Regions from separate parts of the Homo sapiens genome. Here regions 1, 3 and 4 are each linked to region 2. Evidence: fine-mapped expression QTL. A gene starts in region 2. Each other region holds a variant in brackets. All regions are shown on one strand. Distances are from middle to middle. Region 1 overlaps B4GALT1 (beta-1,4-galactosyltransferase 1). Region 2 holds the start of B4GALT1 (beta-1,4-galactosyltransferase 1). Region 3 has its middle 4.5 kb from the start of MIR12117. Region 4 overlaps B4GALT1 (beta-1,4-galactosyltransferase 1).

What was found. PIP is the estimated chance that this variant, and not a neighbour inherited with it, causes the effect.
Region 1: its variant is fine-mapped to the expression of B4GALT1 in whole blood (TOPMed, PIP above 0.99). The same link has a PIP of 0.9 or more in blood mononuclear cells, lung and monocytes.
Region 3: its variant is fine-mapped to the expression of B4GALT1 in whole blood (TOPMed, PIP 0.99).
Region 4: its variant is fine-mapped to the expression of B4GALT1 in whole blood (INTERVAL, PIP 0.99).

The regions. Positions count from the first base shown.
Region 1 is chr9:33,110,711-33,115,710 of GRCh38, reverse strand. B4GALT1 (beta-1,4-galactosyltransferase 1) reads left to right here. Exons shown (of 6, transcript NM_001497.4): 5 at 1,833-1,937; 6 at 2,125-5,000. The coding sequence ends at 2,257. Among named protein-coding and RNA genes, the nearest start is that of MIR12117, 4.5 kb to the right of the region's middle. RefSeq lists an enhancer at 3,521-4,120. The variant G/A (reference allele first, on the strand shown) is at 2,387.
Region 2 is chr9:33,164,937-33,170,188 of GRCh38, reverse strand. B4GALT1 (beta-1,4-galactosyltransferase 1) reads left to right here and starts at 2,853. Exons shown (of 6, transcript NM_001497.4): 1 at 2,853-3,431. The coding sequence starts at 3,020. B4GALT1-AS1 (B4GALT1 antisense RNA 1) reads right to left here and starts at 3,241. Exons shown (of 3, transcript NR_108110.1): 1 at 3,143-3,241. RefSeq lists enhancers at 2,270-2,349, 1,872-2,436, 2,420-2,519, 2,437-3,002 and silencers at 2,670-3,069, 2,828-3,101.
Region 3 is chr9:33,101,611-33,106,834 of GRCh38, reverse strand. It overlaps a transcript of B4GALT1 not described here. Among named protein-coding and RNA genes, the nearest start is that of MIR12117, 4.5 kb to the left of the region's middle. The variant G/A (reference allele first, on the strand shown) is at 2,122.
Region 4 is chr9:33,121,994-33,126,993 of GRCh38, reverse strand. The region is part of intron 2 of B4GALT1 (beta-1,4-galactosyltransferase 1); the gene reads left to right. Among named protein-coding and RNA genes, the nearest start is that of MIR12117, 16 kb to the right of the region's middle. RefSeq lists an enhancer at 2,124-2,173. The variant A/G (reference allele first, on the strand shown) is at 2,950.

The DNA of each region.
Region 1 (5,000 bases), 54 kb after region 2:
GGAGTAAACCAATGTCCTTTGTAAAAATCCCTCCTTTCATTATGGTCCCCTTTCACTGTGAAACAAGTTTCCTTGAGCAGAATCCTAACTGTCTTCACAGAAGCTTTGTGTTATATTTTTATTTTGGAGTATTTTCACATATACAAAAGAGATACTGTAGTATAATAAACCTTTGAGGACCTATCCAGCCCCAGCAACCATTATGGCCTGGTCAGTTCTGTCCCATCCACATCCTGGGGCTCTTTTTAAGCTGGTAAATCATTATGATGTGGGTTGTCATTTACAGTGGTAAAAAACATCTATCAGTAGCATTTGAAAGAACATTCTGCTCAGTCCTCTGGCTGTAGAGGCTTCAACCCCACCAGCCACCGATGAGCACCTTCTCCCTCCAGGAGCCAGTCTGAGCTCATTACTGAGTTTAATATCAGAATACACCCTGGTGCAGCCTTTCTAAATTGCAGTACCAGTTAACAGAAGGTGTCTGTCAGAGCAACACCCAAGTCATTCAAGTTACCATTGTGTGCAAACTTAACAGAGACCCACGTCTTCAATATAAGCCTTGAAGGAAACTCCAGTTTTAGTATGTAGATGGGGTATCAAGTGTGTGCACATTGAACATCTGCTGCATACAGAGCACTGTGCCAGGCAGGCCCAGGACACTGAAAACCTGGACATAGGGTCCAGACAGAAGCAAGCCTGCTTCCACAGAGGCACTCCTGGGCAGACACTCTGGACTGATATGACAGTGTGCAGGGCCGACAGGATACCACAGGTCTGAATGGTCAGAACAGCTGGGGAGGGAGGGAGCATCCGCAGGCATCTAGTCCCATGCTAACGCAGTGGCACTAGAAGGATGGGTGGTGTGTGGAGCAACTTTCTTGAAAGATAAAGGACCTAACACTTTCTATGCACCACTTACTGTGTGCCAGGCAAGGCCAGGAATGTTTAAGTGGTCTGGGATCAGCCAGTTCTGCCTCTTAACTAACTTTGCTGTCCTGCTCTCCAGGCTTTCATTTTGGTCCTCATTCCTTTTCCTTGGACCAACACAGAATCCTCCACCCTGTTCTGGCTGCCTCTAGTCTTGTTCTCAGCCCTCCATTTGTTTTTTTCTGCCTTTTCCCACATGTTCTGAAGCCCTCCATTCGTATACTACTTTCCAGAGACTTCCCCATGGCTAAAAGCATTTTGGAAATACTGTATATTAGGCCCCTTTCAGATACTGGCAACCGTTTGTGGGATGCTCTGAGAAGGCCTCTGTGACTTAGCCTGGCCCTTTTCAGCCCATCACCTGCCACGTCCTACCCCAGACCCTTGTCACCAGTCCCCAGGAGCTTACGTTGCTCCCTGAGGGCACTAGGCTTGCTCTCACTTCCATGCCTTTGCCTGTGCCATCCTGGCTGCCCAAAATGCTATGGCAGATACCTGTTCATCCTCAACTGGGCTCTGCCTAGGCTTGCTCCAGCAGAGGTTACAAACTCTATGCTTCTTCCTCTGTGTCTCCAACCTCATCTTCCTCTTCTCACCTCCATCCTGGCCCTAAAGGCCCTATGTTTGAAGCATTCACACTGTATATTCTGTGGGGCACACGGCCCCAGTGTCTGGCACATGGTAGTCAACACCACAAACCGCAGAACCAGTTGTAAAAGGACATGGAGTCGGAATGTGAGTTTTAACCAGGGTCATGCTGGGCTGGGTTCTGGCATGATGCTGGGTTGTGGGCTGAGTGAGAACAGCAAGGGTGATGGTGGATGGAGCAACAGTCTTGCAGCCGGGGCTCTCAGGCCAAGTGTATGGCAGCTCTGTGATAATGACTTTCCCTTTACTCTTTGCAGATTAGTTTTTAGAGGCATGTCTATATCTCGCCCAAATGCTGTGGTCGGGAGGTGTCGCATGATCCGCCACTCAAGAGACAAGAAAAATGAACCCAATCCTCAGAGGTGCATTCTTTGTTTATTCATACTCCTTCCCCCTTTAGGATGAGGTAGGCTGCAGGTCCGAGGCTCTGGGCCTAGAGGGAAATTGAGGTGGTCAGGTTACAGTGGAGAGGGAGGAGGAAGTACGTGTGATGATTTCTTCTTAAGATTTTTGTTTTAAGACAATCTCCTTGTGCTCTTTTCCTTGTAGGTTTGACCGAATTGCACACACAAAGGAGACAATGCTCTCTGATGGTTTGAACTCACTCACCTACCAGGTGCTGGATGTACAGAGATACCCATTGTATACCCAAATCACAGTGGACATCGGGACACCGAGCTAGCGTTTTGGTACACGGATAAGAGACCTGAAATTAGCCAGGGACCTCTGCTGTGTGTCTCTGCCAATCTGCTGGGCTGGTCCCTCTCATTTTTACCAGTCTGAGTGACAGGTCCCCTTCGCTCATCATTCA[G/A]ATGGCTTTCCAGATGACCAGGACGAGTGGGATATTTTGCCCCCAACTTGGCTCGGCATGTGAATTCTTAGCTCTGCAAGGTGTTTATGCCTTTGCGGGTTTCTTGATGTGTTCGCAGTGTCACCCCAGAGTCAGAACTGTACACATCCCAAAATTTGGTGGCCGTGGAACACATTCCCGGTGATAGAATTGCTAAATTGTCGTGAAATAGGTTAGAATTTTTCTTTAAATTATGGTTTTCTTATTCGTGAAAATTCGGAGAGTGCTGCTAAAATTGGATTGGTGTGATCTTTTTGGTAGTTGTAATTTAACAGAAAAACACAAAATTTCAACCATTCTTAATGTTACGTCCTCCCCCCACCCCCTTCTTTCAGTGGTATGCAACCACTGCAATCACTGTGCATATGTCTTTTCTTAGCAAAAGGATTTTAAAACTTGAGCCCTGGACCTTTTGTCCTATGTGTGTGGATTCCAGGGCAACTCTAGCATCAGAGCAAAAGCCTTGGGTTTCTCGCATTCAGTGGCCTATCTCCAGATTGTCTGATTTCTGAATGTAAAGTTGTTGTGTTTTTTTTTAAATAGTAGTTTGTAGTATTTTAAAGAAAGAACAGATCGAGTTCTAATTATGATCTAGCTTGATTTTGTGTTGATCCAAATTTGCATAGCTGTTTAATGTTAAGTCATGACAATTTATTTTTCTTGGCATGCTATGTAAACTTGAATTTCCTATGTATTTTTATTGTGGTGTTTTAAATATGGGGAGGGGTATTGAGCATTTTTTAGGGAGAAAAATAAATATATGCTGTAGTGGCCACAAATAGGCCTATGATTTAGCTGGCAGGCCAGGTTTTCTCAAGAGCAAAATCACCCTCTGGCCCCTTGGCAGGTAAGGCCTCCCGGTCAGCATTATCCTGCCAGACCTCGGGGAGGATACCTGGGAGACAGAAGCCTCTGCACCTACTGTGCAGAACTCTCCACTTCCCCAACCCTCCCCAGGTGGGCAGGGCGGAGGGAGCCTCAGCCTCCTTAGACTGACCCCTCAGGCCCCTAGGCTGGGGGGTTGTAAATAACAGCAGTCAGGTTGTTTACCAGCCCTTTGCACCTCCCCAGGCAGAGGGAGCCTCTGTTCTGGTGGGGGCCACCTCCCTCAGAGGCTCTGCTAGCCACACTCCGTGGCCCACCCTTTGTTACCAGTTCTTCCTCCTTCCTCTTTTCCCCTGCCTTTCTCATTCCTTCCTTCGTCTCCCTTTTTGTTCCTTTGCCTCTTGCCTGTCCCCTAAAACTTGACTGTGGCACTCAGGGTCAAACAGACTATCCATTCCCCAGCATGAATGTGCCTTTTAATTAGTGATCTAGAAAGAAGTTCAGCCGAACCCACACCCCAACTCCCTCCCAAGAACTTCGGTGCCTAAAGCCTCCTGTTCCACCTCAGGTTTTCACAGGTGCTCCCACCCCAGTTGAGGCTCCCACCCACAGGGCTGTCTGTCACAAACCCACCTCTGTTGGGAGCTATTGAGCCACCTGGGATGAGATGACACAAGGCACTCCTACCACTGAGCGCCTTTGCCAGGTCCAGCCTGGGCTCAGGTTCCAAGACTCAGCTGCCTAATCCCAGGGTTGAGCCTTGTGCTCGTGGCGGACCCCAAACCACTGCCCTCCTGGGTACCAGCCCTCAGTGTGGAGGCTGAGCTGGTGCCTGGCCCCAGTCTTATCTGTGCCTTTACTGCTTTGCGCATCTCAGATGCTAACTTGGTTCTTTTTCCAGAAGCCTTTGTATTGGTTAAAAATTATTTTCCATTGCAGAAGCAGCTGGACTATGCAAAAAGTATTTCTCTGTCAGTTCCCCACTCTATACCAAGGATATTATTAAAACTAGAAATGACTGCATTGAGAGGGAGTTGTGGGAAATAAGAAGAATGAAAGCCTCTCTTTCTGTCCGCAGATCCTGACTTTTCCAAAGTGCCTTAAAAGAAATCAGACAAATGCCCTGAGTGGTAACTTCTGTGTTATTTTACTCTTAAAACCAAACTCTACCTTTTCTTGTTGTTTTTTTTTTTTTTTTTTTTTTTTTTTTGGTTACCTTCTCATTCATGTCAAGTATGTGGTTCATTCTTAGAACCAAGGGAAATACTGCTCCCCCCATTTGCTGACGTAGTGCTCTCATGGGCTCACCTGGGCCCAAGGCACAGCCAGGGCACAGTTAGGCCTGGATGTTTGCCTGGTCCGTGAGATGCCGCGGGTCCTGTTTCCTTACTGGGGATTTCAGGGCTGGGGGTTCAGGGAGCATTTCCTTTTCCTGGGAGTTATGACCGCGAAGTTGTCATGTGCCGTGCCCTTTTCTGTTTCTGTGTATCCTATTGCTGGTGACTCTGTGTGAACTGGCCTTTGGGAAAGATCAGAGAGGGCAGAGGTGGCACAGGACAGTAAAGGAGATGCTGTGCTGGCCTTCAGCCTGGACAGGGTCTCTGCTGACTGCCAGGGGCGGGGGCTCTGCATAGCCAGGATGACGGCTTTCATGTCCCAGAGACCTGTTGTGCTGTGTATTTTGATTTCCTGTGTATGCAAATGTGTGTATTTACCATTGTGTAGGGGGCTGTGTCTGATCTTGGTGTTC
Region 2 (5,252 bases):
ACCATTCTGGATAACACGGTGAAACCCCATCTCTACTAAAAATACAAACAAATTAGCCGGGCATGGTGGCAGGCACCTGTAGTCCCAGCTACTTGGGAGGCTGAGGCAGGAGAATGGCGTGAACCCAGGAGGCAGAGCTTGCAGTGAGCCAAGATCACGCCACTGCACTCCAGCCTGGGTGACAGAGTGAGACTCCGTCTCAAAAAAAAAAAAAAAAAAATCTAGGGGCTGAAGATACAGTAGTGAACAAGAGAGAAATTTCCTGTTCTCATGAAGCTGATTTTCTAATGAGGGAGGCAAGACAACAGAAAATAAATGCATAATGTTGGGTAGTTGATATCCACTCTGAAAAAAATCAAGCAGGTTAAGGCCGGGCGCGGTGGCTCACGCCTGTAATCCCAGCACTTTGGGAGGCCGAGGCGGGCGGATCACCTGAGGTCAGGAGTTTGAAACCAGCCTGGCCAACATGGTGAAATCCGTCTCTACTAAAAACACAAAAAATTAGCCCGGCGTGATGGCAGGCACCTGTAATCCCAGCTACTCAAGAGGCTGAGGCAGGAGAATCGCTTGAACCCGGGAGGCAGAGGTTGCAGTGAGGTGAGATTGCACCATTGCACTCCAACCTGGGGGACAAAAGCAAGACTTTGTCTCAAAAAAAAAAAAAAAAAAATTCAAGCAGTTTAAGCAGATTTGGGCAGGAGGCCATTCTGCATAAGGTAGTCTGAAAAGGTCTCTGTCATAAGGTGACATTTAAGAGACCTGAATTGAATGAAATATTGGGGACAAGTGTTTCAGGCTAAATGAACAGCAAGTACAAAGGCCCTGAGGCAGGAAGAAATATGGCAAGTTCAAGGAATAGCTATCAGGCTAGTGTGGCTAAGGCAGGTCCAGCATGGTAGAGTGACAGATGTGGGTGGGGAGGGAAATAGGAACCAGATTGAACAGGGTTTCTGTGGATTTGGTTCTGAACAAAATGGCATGATCTGATTTATGCTTACAAAGATTTCCTGGATGCTCTGTGGAAAACAGACTAGGGAGGAGGAATGGAGGAGGTGGAAGCAGGGTGACCAATTAGTAGCTGCCATATAACCCAGGGCAAGATGATGGTGGCTTGATCGAGGATGGTTACATCAGAGTTGGCTGGTGGTGAATTTTGATGTTTTGAAGGTAGCACTGACAAAGCTGGCTGAGGGCTTGCAAATGGCATTGAGAGCAAGAGAAGCACATCAAGGACACCTTTTAGATTCTGGGGAACTGAATAAACAATAGTATCACTCTCTGAGGGAGGTAAGAACGGGAGTGGTGTGTAAGGAGTAGGTTGCTGAGGGCAAGATGTATTGTGTTTGAGATGCCAGTAAAATAAGCAGTTGAATCTGGAGGTCAGGGAAGAGATCTGGGCTGGAGACAAATCAGTGATCAGCATTTGGATATTATAAATCATTCCGAGGCAGTAAGTGTAGACACAAAAGAACATCATGGACTATGGCTGGGGCCTTCAGCAACTGGGGAAGAAGTCCAGAGAGGAGACAGAAATGGCCAGTGAAGTGAGGAAGATCAGAAGGACCTGGTGTCCAGGAAGTCAAGTGAGGAAAGTTGATTCTGTATGATCACAACCAAAGTGTCAACTCATAAGCCTTATTTTCTCATCTGTGAAATGGACACCGTAACACCACCTACTTCATGGCAGATAGTACTGGCACACAGCAAACTCTCAAAATAAGGTAGCTACTGTTATTCCCTGATGGTTGGCTGCCAGAGCCCTCAACTTCCCTATCCACATTACTGACAGCACCTCCATGAGTCTTTCTCTGGGGTGAGGTGTCTCTGCTCACTCAGGGCCTGAGGCCTCTGGGTCAAATCGAGGTCAAGTGGCTTCAGTGCCTAAGTCTCTCACCCACACAGCCTTCAGCCCTTACTTGCAAATCAACAAAGGGTAAACCTGTAGAAAACATGGGTTTCGGAGCCAGAATTCTGCCTCTTGCCAGCTGTGGGCTCTTAGGAAAGTTTCTTAATCTGCCGGGGCCCCACTCTACGACATGGGGAGAACTGCTACTTCATGGGACAGTGGGTAGCCCAGTGTAGACTGTAACGCCGGCTGATCTCCTGCACGCTGGCCTGGGAGTTAGAGGCTTCTTGCTGCTCTCCTCTTCAAAGTATACAGGACTCCCGCCACACACACATCTGGAACCAAGCTGGTCTGAGAGCCCCTTATAGCCCAGGCTACCTGATGGGGAGGCACAGAAGTGGCAACCCGTCCACTTTCTTTGCCGCAGGACCCCCCGTTAAGCAGCGGGGTCCAGCCGGGCTGAGTTAGGGAGGGGGTTTCGAACGTGCCACTCCTCGCCCGGCGTCGAAGCCCGTTTCCTGGGTAACCTTTTTCTGCCTCTCTTCCTAGCCCACCAAGGCCCACTGGCCAGAACGCCGCCGCGGCCCCAAACCACTCCAGATAACCACCCGCCAGCTGTCCTCTCCGTTCTCTCCGCCGCCGCGCTGCAGGCCCAGGCTCGCACCCGAGTCCCTTCGCACCCCAGGAAGTGGCGCGGCCTGTCGAGGGCAGCGTGGAGGAGGAAGAGGAGGCGCGGCTCAACGCGACCGAAGCTCCGCCGCAAAGGCTCGGGAGGAAGAGGGCGGTGCGCGGCCAAGCGTCGGAGCTGCAGTCATACTCCGGGGACCCCACGACGGCGCCCCGCCCGCTGCCCACCCTCCCGAGGCCCCGCCCAGCGCGCCCATCCCGCCACGGGCTGCCCCGCCTTCCCGCCCTCGTCCAGAAAACCCCGCGCCCGGCCCCGCCCCCGCCTTCGCCGGGGCCCCGCCCCTCCCCTCTCCGCCGGCGCCTCGGGCGGCTTCTCGCCGCTCCCAGGTCTGGCTGGCTGGAGGAGTCTCAGCTCTCAGCCGCTCGCCCGCCCCCGCTCCGGGCCCTCCCCTAGTCGCCGCTGTGGGGCAGCGCCTGGCGGGCGGCCCGCGGGCGGGTCGCCTCCCCTCCTGTAGCCCACACCCTTCTTAAAGCGGCGGCGGGAAGATGAGGCTTCGGGAGCCGCTCCTGAGCGGCAGCGCCGCGATGCCAGGCGCGTCCCTACAGCGGGCCTGCCGCCTGCTCGTGGCCGTCTGCGCTCTGCACCTTGGCGTCACCCTCGTTTACTACCTGGCTGGCCGCGACCTGAGCCGCCTGCCCCAACTGGTCGGAGTCTCCACACCGCTGCAGGGCGGCTCGAACAGTGCCGCCGCCATCGGGCAGTCCTCCGGGGAGCTCCGGACCGGAGGGGCCCGGCCGCCGCCTCCTCTAGGCGCCTCCTCCCAGCCGCGCCCGGGTGGCGACTCCAGCCCAGTCGTGGATTCTGGCCCTGGCCCCGCTAGCAACTTGACCTCGGTCCCAGTGCCCCACACCACCGCACTGTCGCTGCCCGCCTGCCCTGAGGAGTCCCCGCTGCTTGGTAAGGACTCGGGTCGGCGCCAGTCGGAGGATTGGGACCCCCCCGGATTTCCCCGACAGGGTCCCCCAGACATTCCCTCAGGCTGGCTCTTCTACGACAGCCAGCCTCCCTCTTCTGGATCAGAGTTTTAAATCCCAGACAGAGGCTTGGGACTGGATGGGAGAGAAGGTTTGCGAGGTGGGTCCCTGGGGAGTCCTGTTGGAGGCGTGGGGCCGGGACCGCACAGGGAAGTCCCGAGGCCCCTCTAGCCCCAGAACCAGAGAAGGCCTTGGAGACTTCCCTGCTGTGGCCCGAGGCTCAGGAAGTTTTGGAGTTTGGGTCTGCTTAGGGCTTCGAGCAGCCTTGCACTGAGAACTCTGGTAGGGACCTCGAGTAATCCACTCCCTTTTGGGGACTGACGTGAGGCTCCCGGTGGGGAAGGAGACTGACCTCTCGGTTCACGTGTCTTGCCATAGAGCCACTCTCCTGAGTGGGTTTTTCTCCTGATCGTTTGGGCCAAGTGACTTCTCTCTGAACCTCATATTTCTCTTCTGGGATAATAAATGGTCACCCTTTCAAGGGGTTGTTTTGGAAGATATTGTGAACAATGGTAAATAAGGGCTTAATTAATGAGGGTAAGCCCTCAGTAAATTGTCACTGTGTGTTCATTTCTTCCTCTGTGTGGATCGTGACCGAGAGCCCTTCCCCCTAGCCTCCTCCTGGTATGGGTACCCAAAACCTAGGTGAGCAGGGATCTCTCCCAGGGGCAGAGAGCTTGTGTACTCTGGGTGTTAGAGGGCTAAAATATAACCAGTCAACACCACGTTGCCCATTTCTGGTACTTCCGGTAGCAGCCTGAGTCTCAATTATCTTGCCCAGATGATCTGAACTCTGACCTCTAGCCTGTTTCAGCATAGGCAGAGAGCTTGAGTAGGTGAGTTTGCATTCCTCATAGCAGCTGGCTGAGCCTAGTCTGGACTTCTCTTTGACCTGTAACCTACAGGCCCACAGGCCCAAGGCAACCACAGGTTGCTTCCAGGGTTACCACACAGGTGGTTTCTCATTTCTAATGCTAGGTTTTAGATAATTGTTGTAAGTGAGGGGCCCTGGCAGGCAGGATGACATCCTGCCAATAGGAGTTTTCTGTCACTTTCCCACAGAGCCCTGGCTACTACATACTCTTGCTCAATTTCGCCAGTAATTGCGTCAATGTGTTCATATCAAGTTTGGGAAGAACATCTTGGAATTGGTCAGACGTGAACTGTGGTAATAATGGGGGCTTGTTTTTTTAAGCAGATAATTAAATTCCTTTGCATTTGATGATTATTCTGGGAAGCAGACTAGTCCCATAAAATGAAATGGACTCTGCCTTGCTGCTAAGTGTCTGACTTGAGACATGCTATCGAGTTTCTCAAAATCTCTTCCTTGTGTAAAATGTGGTTGTCGATGATTACCTTACAGGGGTTTTTTTAAGACTAAATGAGATCGTGTACATTAAATACAGGCACTCAGGCTGGGCATGGTGGCTCACGCCTGTAATCCTAGCACTTTGGGAGGCTGAGGGGAGTGGATCACTTGAGGTTAGGAGTTTGAGACCAGCCTGGCCAATATGGTGAAACACCATCCCATCTCTACAAAAATACAAAAAAGTTAGCCAGGGGTGGTGGCATCGCAGCTACTCAGGAGGCCGAGGCAGGAGAATTGCTTGAACCTGGGAGGCAGAGGTTGCAGTGAGTCAAGATTGTGCCAGTACACTCCAGCCTGGGCGACGAAGCAAGACTGTCTAAAAAAAAAAAAAAAAAAAAAAATACGGGCACTCAATACACCGTATAATAATAATAT
Region 3 (5,224 bases), 63 kb after region 2:
TGTGTCTCTGTGTCTTCTGTAGGAAGTGCCCTGCTGTTGACTTTTCCTCTTGCCCTGCGACTAACCTTCTCTGTCTTCTTGAGGGAAGTCCATTTATTTCTGGGTCATCATTTGTAAAAGCAGCAGGATCACCCCTTCCTGCTCTCCTCCCTCCCTGCCTCCCTCCCAGGGCTTCCTGGAGCATCACGGGGTAAGCTATTAAAGTTCTACCTGGTGAGGGAGGGCTGGCATGGCGTTGGAGACATCTCCCTCTTGTGCCCAATGCCATCCACGCTCCATTGCTGTCCCTCAGAAGTGCTTCTTTGTCTCCATCCTTCCTCTCACCTGCTCTTCCTTAACTTCCAAAACTCAGGCTTCCTGATCATCCCCTACCAAGCTCAGCAGGGTCAAGAGTACCCAGGGGCCTGAGGGAGAAGCACAGGGATGCGGACAGGGTGGCTGTACCTCTGCTCAGCTCCCAGGAGTAAGAAATAGGGTTAAGAGGAGCGTGGGAGCAAACTCCCTACCCAGGCTTCTTTCAGCTGGGCCATCTGTCCTTTGACAAAGGGATCTAGGATTTCCTGACCTTAAGAAGGCTCCCTTAAGTGGAAATGCAGATAAAAATCACAAAGAGATACACCAATTTGGATGGTTATTATTTTAAAAACCAGAAACACAAAATAAGTGTTGGCAAAGATATGCAGAAATTGGATCTGATGTTAGTCATTGTTGATTCAGGGTAAAAGAAAAGAAGAAATTGGAATACTTGTGCATTGCTGGTAGGAATGTAAAATGGTGGAACCCCTATGGAAAATGGTATGGAAATTCCTCCAAAAATTAAACATGGAATTACCATAGAATGCAACAAGTCCATTTTTAGCTATATACCCAAAAGAAATAAAAACAGGAGCCTGAGCAGATACTAGTTCCTAGCACTATTATTCACAGTAGCCAAAAAAAAAAAAAAAAAAAAAACCCACGAGTCCATTGATGGATAAACAAAAGGCGGTATATACATACAATGGAATATCGGTCAGCCTTAAAAGGGGAGGAAATTCTGACATATACTACAACTCAGATGAACCTTGAAGATATTATGCTAACCGAAATAAGTCAGTCACAAAAGGACAAATATCATATGATTGCACTTAGACGAGTCAGCTAAAATAGTCAAACTCACAGAGACAGAAGGCAGAATGGTGGTTGTCAGGGGCATGGGGAAGGGAAGGGGAATGGGGAGTTATTGTTTAATGAGTACAGAGTTTTAGTTGGGGAAGATGAAAAAGTTCTGGAAATGGATGGTGGTGGTGCAACAATATGAATGTACTTTATGCCACAGAACTTTACATTGGCACTCTGCCCCCGATGACTGACTTTTCAGTTGCTACCTGTTCCCATTTAAAAATGGTTAAAATGGGCCGGCTTGGTGGCTCATGTCTGTAATCCTAGCACTTTGGGAGGCTGAGGCGGGAGGATCACCTGAGGTTGGGAGTTCTCGAGACCAGCCTGACCAACATGGAGAAACCCTGTCTCTACTAAAAATACAAAATTAGCCAGGCGTGGTGGTGCATGCCTGTAATCCCAGCTACTAGGGAGGCTGAGGCAGGAGAATCTCTTGAACCTGGAAGGCGGAGGTTGTGGTGAGCCGAGATTGGGCCATTGCATTCCAGCCTGGGCAACAAGAGTGAAACTCCATCTCAAAATAAATAAATAAATAAGGTTAAAATGTGGAGGCCGGGCGCAGTGAGTGGCTCACGCCAGTAATCCCAGCACTTTGGGAGGCCAAGGTGGGCGGATCACTTGAGGTCAGGAGTTTGAGACCAGCCTGGCCAACACAGTGAAACCCCGTCTCTACTAAAAATACAAAAATTAGCTGGGCGTGGTGGCACATGCCTGTAATCCCAGGCACTCAGGAGGCTGAGGCAGGAGAATTGTTTGAACCCAAGAGGTGGAAGTTGCAGTTCATTTACTTAGCACGTCACTGCACTCCAGCCTGGGCAACAGAGTGAGACTGTCTCAAAAAAAAAAAAAAAGGTAAAATGATGCATTTTCTGTTATGTGTATTTTACCACAGTATGAAAAAATAAGAAGACTCCTGTGGTGAAGGCTTCGCCTGGTCTGTTCTGCTCTGGAGGTGGCAGC[G/A]CATGGTGGTTAGTCCCAGCATCTTCCTGGAGATTTGAGCGTGAGACGTGCTGGCTGTGTGGGCTGTGCCACCTGAGGAGGATTGGCCAGTCATAAGGACTCAGCCTGGTTGCTGAATCCAGCTGGGGACCTTGACCCCAGTGACTGGCTTTTCAGCGGCTACCTGTTCTCGAGACAAATGCTGTCCTCCCCTAAGGAGTCTGGGCTGTGGCAAAGCTATGACATAGGTACAACCGTCCTTTTGCCAGGTGGGGCTTAGGTGGAGAAGTTGAAGCCTGGACTCAGTCAAGATCTCAGGACTGGGAGCAAGGAGCCTCTTACTCCCAGGGTGCCCACTTGGTTCCCACTGACTGTTGGTGGAAACTAGGGGCTGAGCTGGAGGCTTTTTAGAGGAAGAAATGACAAGCTGGGGGCTGGATTATCCCTGGGGGTGAAAATGGAGTCAGCTAGATAGGTTATGTCTTGAAGGAGAGGAGGGTCCCCTGGTGTCAGGAAGCAGAGCCTGAACTCCATGTTAGACCCTGGATTGGAGAGTGGGCAGGACACTTGGGAGAGACAGGACTTGGTACTGGCGAGGGTACTACCACACCCATTCTGGGAGTGGACTATAGAGAAATAAATCCTAAAAGTGGACCTATCTTTTGACCTCACAAGTCAACTTCTAGGAATTCATCCTAAGAAAACAAAGTCACACCCCAAGATGTATGTGCGTCAGTGTTCGCCCTAGTGCTGTTTGTAGCCCTGGAAAATGAGAAGCCACCGTCAACGGGGGACTGTGCTAAGTAAAATGAAGTACATCCAAACAATCAAGTACTATGCAACCATTGAGAATGATGAAGTGGATCTATATTTATCGATTGGAAAGAGGCCTAAGGAAACAAAGGAAACTACAGAATGGTCTTTCCATATGAGGCAGGGAAATGTATGAATAATTTAGTGCAGAAATTACTCTGTAATTGTTTCTGGGAGCAGATGCATGAGCAAAAAATTGAAGATGATTTTCCTTCTCTACATAGCCTGGGGCCAGGCCCCTGTTCTAAGCGTCCCCGCCCCACCCTGGGCTGAGGCCTTTGTTCAGAATGTTGGCCCTGTTGAGAGGACATGCTGGGTTGTCTTCTGGGAGGAGTTGCATTCCCCATAAGTCCCCCAGTCTTGGAAGGGTGATGCAGGGTTCCTCCCCTGGGGGAATGGTGGAGGCCTGAACTCTGTTCACAGGTGGTGGGAAATGGCATGGCTGTAGGAAGGTCTGAGAAGGCAGAATGGGAGCTCAACACAGGCTGGGGGGGCTTCTGGCAATTCTCTCAGGTTTAGAAAAATAGTTACAACATTTCTTGCCACTCTTTTGTGAGGGCAATTGAACTGTCAAGCCTCAAGACACTAAAGAATGGAAAGAATGCGGTAGGAGAGGAACACTGTCTTGGCTCTGGAGGGGCGAGATTCGCCTCTTGTGCCTGATCAGAGCTCGACAAGGGGGACCCCTTTTCTAGTAGATCTTTGACTCCAGAATCTAGGAGCCCTGTTGCAGAGGGAGGCCCTGACATCTGGATTTTGACACAGACCTGAGCCTGGAGCTGTTGGAAACTCATTTCTGGGACAGATGTGGAATGCTGGACAATCAAACGTCGCCGGGGCCTTTGGAGTGCTCCCTGTGTCCTGTTGCGGTGGCCACAGTGACTTTGGTCTCCCCTGATGACAGAAGCACAGGAGAAAGGCCAGCTCCATGGCCCAGCTCTTAGTTCCCACCTTCCTCCAAGGCGGGCCTGTGGGGCAGGGAGGGTGCAGGTGGACTCGTGAACCCCTCACCCGTGTTCACCCTCCATGAGCACACTCGGCGCTTTCCCACGTACCGTGTGTTGCTCCTTACAATAATTCCAGCATGGGAAACTTAGGCTCAGGGAGCTCACATGACTTGCACAAGGTCACACAGAGTTTGGGTCTGACACAGACCTCCTGAGTCCCAGGCTAGGGCTCTGGCCACTGGACCATGACCCAGCTCCTCATCCACACAGTGTGGGAGCAGGGCGATGGAGGCTGTGAGGTTCCTTGCCCCAGCCAGGGAAGCTGTGGCCTCAGCAGCACTGCCGAGAGAAGTACAGCCTGGATCCAGGGCTGGAGCCAAGAGCACCTTTGGGATGAGATTGTTTGTGTTTTGTTTTGTTTTCCCTTTACTGTTTTAGAGGACTTAGGAACCTAGTAAACTTGACAGCGACAGTTCCGTATACCAGGGGCATTGCATTGGTGTCACCACGGTCTGGGAGATGTACAGGAATGGTTAACACTGAAACAATCCATGAGGATGCAAGGAGGCCTGAGGCGTGGGGAAGAGGGAAGAAGGGAGACTCCTGAGGGCTGGGGATGCAAGTGGACCTGAAGACATGGGGTTTTCTGCCTCTGAGGCATCACTCTGGGCAGCAACAACCAGTTCCTGCTTCATGGACAACACAGCTTCTTAATCCTCCTGGACCTGCCCTGCCTGGGCCAACACCTGGTGCTCAGGAGGGCTCAGCACAGTGTCTGTCTGAAGACTGCGGGGACCCAGAAGTCCAGGTGGAGACCTAGGATTCCCCAATAAGGCCTAGATGCCTGCTTAGTTCTCCCTTTCTCTTCTGGGCACCTTTCCTCCCCGACTGTACACCCTCTTCCCAAGGGAGAGCAATTGCCACACTATTCCAAGACCCCCCTGTAAGTTCTCAGCCAAAGGCATTTTCCTAAGCAAAGCCAGGGGCTGTGGTTTGTTTTGATGACAAGCTGAATCAAGACTGCTAAAAAGCAGGCTGTTGGGTTTAACTTCATCAACTCCAAGCCTCAATGATTTGTGTTCCATGTGGTTTGCTCTGGATAGACACTGACCTAGTGACAATGAGACTATGGAATGGGGAGAGAAGAATTGCATGCTGAGGACAGGAGAAATCTTCCCCATGAACAATTTGTCTGTTGGGCATGACATCTCATATGTCAGCTTGGGCCATTCCTACCAGCTTGGAATGCTCTGTGTCTGACTCAGATGCTGTGTGTGTCTCAAGGGCGCTGGGCTTGGTGGCCTCTGTGAATTTGGCTGGCAGATCTTGGCCCTGCTGGCTCCCAGGATCCATGGGCACTCTTC
Region 4 (5,000 bases), 43 kb after region 2:
TGAGACTCCATTTTAAAAAAACAAACAAACAAAACAAAAAAACAAACAAACAAAAACTGTCTCTTCTGTGCTCACTTCACCCAGAATCCCTGTTGGGCTCTTCAAGGAGCTCAGTTCTCTCTGAAAGCAACTTTATAGCCTCAGTCCAGTCTGTGTTCCTGTGTGGCAGGGGTCAAGGGTATGCTCACTCTTGAGAGTGGTGTCTTTGGTTGACCAAGAACCACTCCCATAGCCTGGTCCCTAACCCTTGAAGGCCCATCTCTCTCACTCACTGGGGTGAAGAGTTTAAATCTCAGATCCAAGTTTTGTTGAGAGCTCTGAGCTACCATATTGCTATGGTTAACAATAGTTAACAATGTTAACAATGGTTAACTATGGTTAACAATAGTTAACAATGTTTAACAACTAGAGCCCAGCTGGGTGTGGTGGCATGTGCTAACAGTCCCAGCTTCTCAAGAGGCTGAGGTGAGAAGATTGCTGGAGTCCAGGAGCTCAAGGCCAGCCTGGGCAACATGGCGAGACCCTGTCTCCCCTGCAAAAAAACAACAACAACAAAAGCAAAACTAGAGCCCAACTGCTGTGAACTCATGGCTGAGTAGATATTATTAGCCCTCCACAAACTCAGCATTTGTATAATCCCAGGCTGTTTCCAGTAATTCTCTGGGGATCATCTCCCAGCCTGTCCACTGTTCCAGGATCCACACTTAGGCCTATAGGAATGCCCCGTCAGAGCTTCTGCTGCCGCTGATCTGTTACTGTTTCATGCAACCCACTCGGCCTAGTTCCTTCCTCTTACTGTCTCAGTGGGCACAGAAAAGCATACAGAGGGTGTTTCAGCAAACATTGCCACTGGCTGCAGACCTGCCCCCGGATCTGTCCTGTTGAGAGCTTAGTGCTGCGTTCTTGCATGGTGGGGAGGGGTGTGGCTCTGTGATGAGCCAGGGCATGTGTATAGGAGCAACAGTGTCTCTCTTATCACGTAGAAGTTCTGACTCATTGCGAGTCTTGGCTTTGGGTTAATGGTTCCAGCCATGTTGCTGCTGTGTCTTTTGGTGCAGGAGAGGCTGGGCACAGTTGGTCCCTAAGCCATTATGGATAAGGGATGTGTCTGCTGATATACACACATGGACCTGACATCCAGGGAAGGCAGGGTGATTGGACAGAACAGTTCTTCCAGAAGCTGTTGGAACTTGGACAAGAGTGGCCCTTGGCTTTCTGTAGTTGGTCATCTGTCCCCTGTTGCAATCAGGGGAAGGCCACACTTGCCTTCCTTAACCACAGTTAGGATTTTCTTGGGGATTAGACCAGATTCTAGCACCTGTCCTGAACCTCTCGCCCCGCCCCTACAAAGGCTGCTTGCAAGTGTAGTGCACATACACAGGGAGCAGGTGGGGCATGGAAGTGGAAGTGGAGCCCCTGCCTTTGGCCCTTGGGGGAGGCACTGTCTGCTTACCCACGGTTGTTGCCTCATAGGAATCATACAACAGCTTCCTAACTGGTCTCCTTGCCTTCAGTTGGATTGGGGCACAAATCCCTCCTTGACATATAAACCATGGTTTAAGGCTCCCTGTGGCCTAAATAAAGATAAAGCTTAAGTATCTTAACAAGCACCTAACCCTTCTCCCCAGCCTCGGTGATTTGGCTCATCGCTGCCTTCATGTTTCATTCTGGCTTCACTCATTCGGAATTTCTTGTAGTTCCTTGGCTGTTCTCTTTTCCTTACCGCCTTTACAAATGCTCTCACCATGCATGCTTTTCTCTGCTCCTACAGATGCCTTCTCTCCCAGCACCGCCTCCAGAGTCTATGTCTGGTCGATTCTGTCTGCTGTCTCCAGTCCCCATCTTGTGGCAGTCTCTGCTCAATCATTTGGGGATTTTATATGTTTTCTGGCCTTTCTTTTGGGGGCCTGTCTTCTCCTTCTAAAAGCAGCCAGTTGACCTAGAAGGAAGGGATAACTGTAACTCTTGTCTACCAACATAAGATTAGGCCCACCCTTTAAAAGCTGCGTCTTTGAAAGGGACACCTGCACCCAGCATGCTGGCTTCTCTTCACCAAGCGTGACTTCCTACGCATTTCACAGGCCTCCAGAGGTCCCCCTGACTCTCTTCTGCTGTGAGAAACTCTAATCATGTAAGCCACAGGCTAATTCCCTTGAGCCTTAAATGTTTTTAGTAATTTCCCATTCATCAGAGAAGCAGGATTTGGGAGGAATTTTGAAGCAAACACTACAGAAGGCAGAGTCTCCAGGTAGGATATCTAAGAGACATTTGGAATGGTCTGACTGTTCAAGATGGATGGGAAAGCCTCTTCCTGTAATGATAGTAGCCAACATTTGTTGTCAGGCAGTGGGGCCCCATTTTTGAGATGGGGTCTCTGTCACCCAGGTTGGAGTGCGGTGGTGCTGTCATGGCTCACTGCAACCTCAGCCTCCCCGGGCTGGGTCTTCTTAATTCTGAAAAACCCAGCTTTTAAAGGGTGGACCTAATCTTATGTTGGTAGACAATGTTGTCTCATTTAATACAATGCACATGCTCTCCCCATAACACAAAAGAGGGAACTGAGGCCTGGAGGTGTGATGTACCCCAAGTCACATAGCTAATAAATAAAGAAGCCAGCATTCCTGGGATTAAAAATGCATGTGTCTGTCACTGTGGTGTATTTGGTGCTTGATCAATGTTTACTTGAGCAAATGGAGGGGCAGAGGTACCGATGAGTGTGCTCAGTGAGGAGGGCAGGAGTGAAGCTGGGCGTCTTCCCGCCTCTTGTGAGTGGTGGGGCTTGGTGAGCTTGCCAGGGCCTGTCTTTCTTATCAAAGAAGGTGTGTGCCCCAGTGTTACAGCATTTCACCCAAAGCAGCCTAGAAAATGCTTGACTTTTCTGTCATTCCGGGGAGGACACTTTCCTCCTCCACTGTTCTGCTGGCCTGGTGTACCCACGGCCCCTGATAG[A/G]TGATAGCACCTGCTAAAGTGCACCATGCCCTTCCGTCTCACTGCATCCCACAGATGAGGCCAGGCTGGGATGAGGGAGAAAGGGAGGGATATATAGTTCAGGTTATTTTGGAAAACTGCCTGACCAATTTTAAGTCTGGGCCGGACACTGGGGCATCTCACCACGTTGAAAGGGCCGTGGCACCCCGGGCGGTGAAAGGGGCTGGAACCAGGTCTGCTTCTTGGGCTTCTCCTCCAGGGTGCCATTGCTCATGGGCCTTGGCTGCAGAGGTGCTCATTCGTGGTTCCAAAATTCCAATTCCTGGGAGAGGAAAAATGCTTAGTTCAGTCTCAGTTAGGCCTCTGCTTAGATCAAACAGCCAAGGCCAGTAGGCCCAGTCCTATGGTAGAGACATGGCCTCAAAGAGCCCTCTGCTGCAGTTGTTGGGGAGTGTACCAAGAGAAGGGAGCATTGTCCTGGGCTGGGCAGCCCTGGGGGTCTAGTGCATAGATGTAGAAAGGCTCTGTTGGTATACCTCCCTTTGCTTGTTGGAAAGTGCTCAACGGGGCTGAATTGTGTTTGACAGTGTAAGTCTGGGCTGGGGTGAGGGTTGTTACAAGATTGTCAAGATGATTAAATGAAATGCCATTTGAAACACTTATCCATGCCTTGTGTATGGTATCCCCACCAGTGAATATTCACAGTATATTATAATAATTCCAACAACTTCATAATTTTCATATGCAATTTCTAAACTTTGAACTTTTTTTTTTTTTTTTTTTTTTTTGAGACAGTGTCTCGCTCTGTTGCCCAGGCTGGAGTGCAGTGGCGCAATCTTGGCTCACTGCAACCTCCACCTCCCGGCTTCAAGTGATTCTCCTGCCTCAGCCTCCTGAGTAGCTAGGAATCCAGGCGCCCGCCACCACACCCAGCTAATTTTTGTATTTTTAGTAGAGACGGGCTTTCGCCATGTTGGCCAGGCTGGTCTCAAACTCCTGACCTGAGGTGATCCACCGCCTTGGCCTTCCAAAGTGCTAGGATTACATACGTGAGCCACTGTGCCCGGCAATTTTTTGTGTTTTTAGTAGAGATGGGGTTTCACCATGTTGGCCAGGCTGGTCTCGAACTCCTGACCTCAAGTGATCTGCCCGCCTCAGCCTCCCTAATGCTGGGATTACAGGTGTGAGCCACCACGCCCAGCCTAAACTTTGAATTTCTTTGAACCCATGACTTACACAGAATTAGCTGAACGCAGAATTCCAAATCAACTCAGCCTGTGGGACAGCCAAAAAACACAGTGTGCCTTTGGGCTCCTTCACTCACCACGCGGGGTTAGAAAACTTTGTCAGAGGCTTTAAAAAAGGAGCTCTTGTGTGTAAAATGTTTCCTTGATTCTCTTTCTGGTGCCTCTCTTTCTCTAAGTGGTTTGCTTCCCCAAGTTCCCCACCTGAGTCTGGGTGGCTGTGGCACATCTGTGCATTCTGTACGCACACAGGCAGCCTTTTGGAGTGCCAGTTTCCAGGTCTTGGTTTTATTTATTTATTTATTTATTTTTTTGAGATGGGGGTCTCACTCTGCCGCCCAGGCTGGAGTGCAGTGGTGCCGTCATGGCTCACTGCAACCTCAACCTCCCTGGGATCAGTTGAGCCTCCTACCTCAGCCTCCAGAGTACTAGGGACCACCATGCCTGGCAAATTTTTGTAATTTTTTGTAGAGGCAGAGTCTCACCATGTTGCTCAGGCTGGTCTCGAGCTCCTAGACTCAAGTGATCTGCCCACCTTGGCCTCCCAAGTGTTAGGATTACAAGTGTGAGCCACCATGCCCAGCCCAGGTCATCTTTTGAGGGCATGGAGAGAAGACTTTGAGCATCCCACTTTTGAGATTGTGTACCAGTCGCAAGCCCCTATGACACACTTTTTCCCCAAAGTAGAGGGCTCTGACTATGTTGATCCCAAGAGAGATGGGAAAGAGCATTGAATGAGGATTCCAAAGTATTGGGCCTTAGTTCGTTTCCTCATGTTGGTGTTGTGAAGATTCTGGTTAGGATAACAGCATGTGTGCAGGAGGCTTT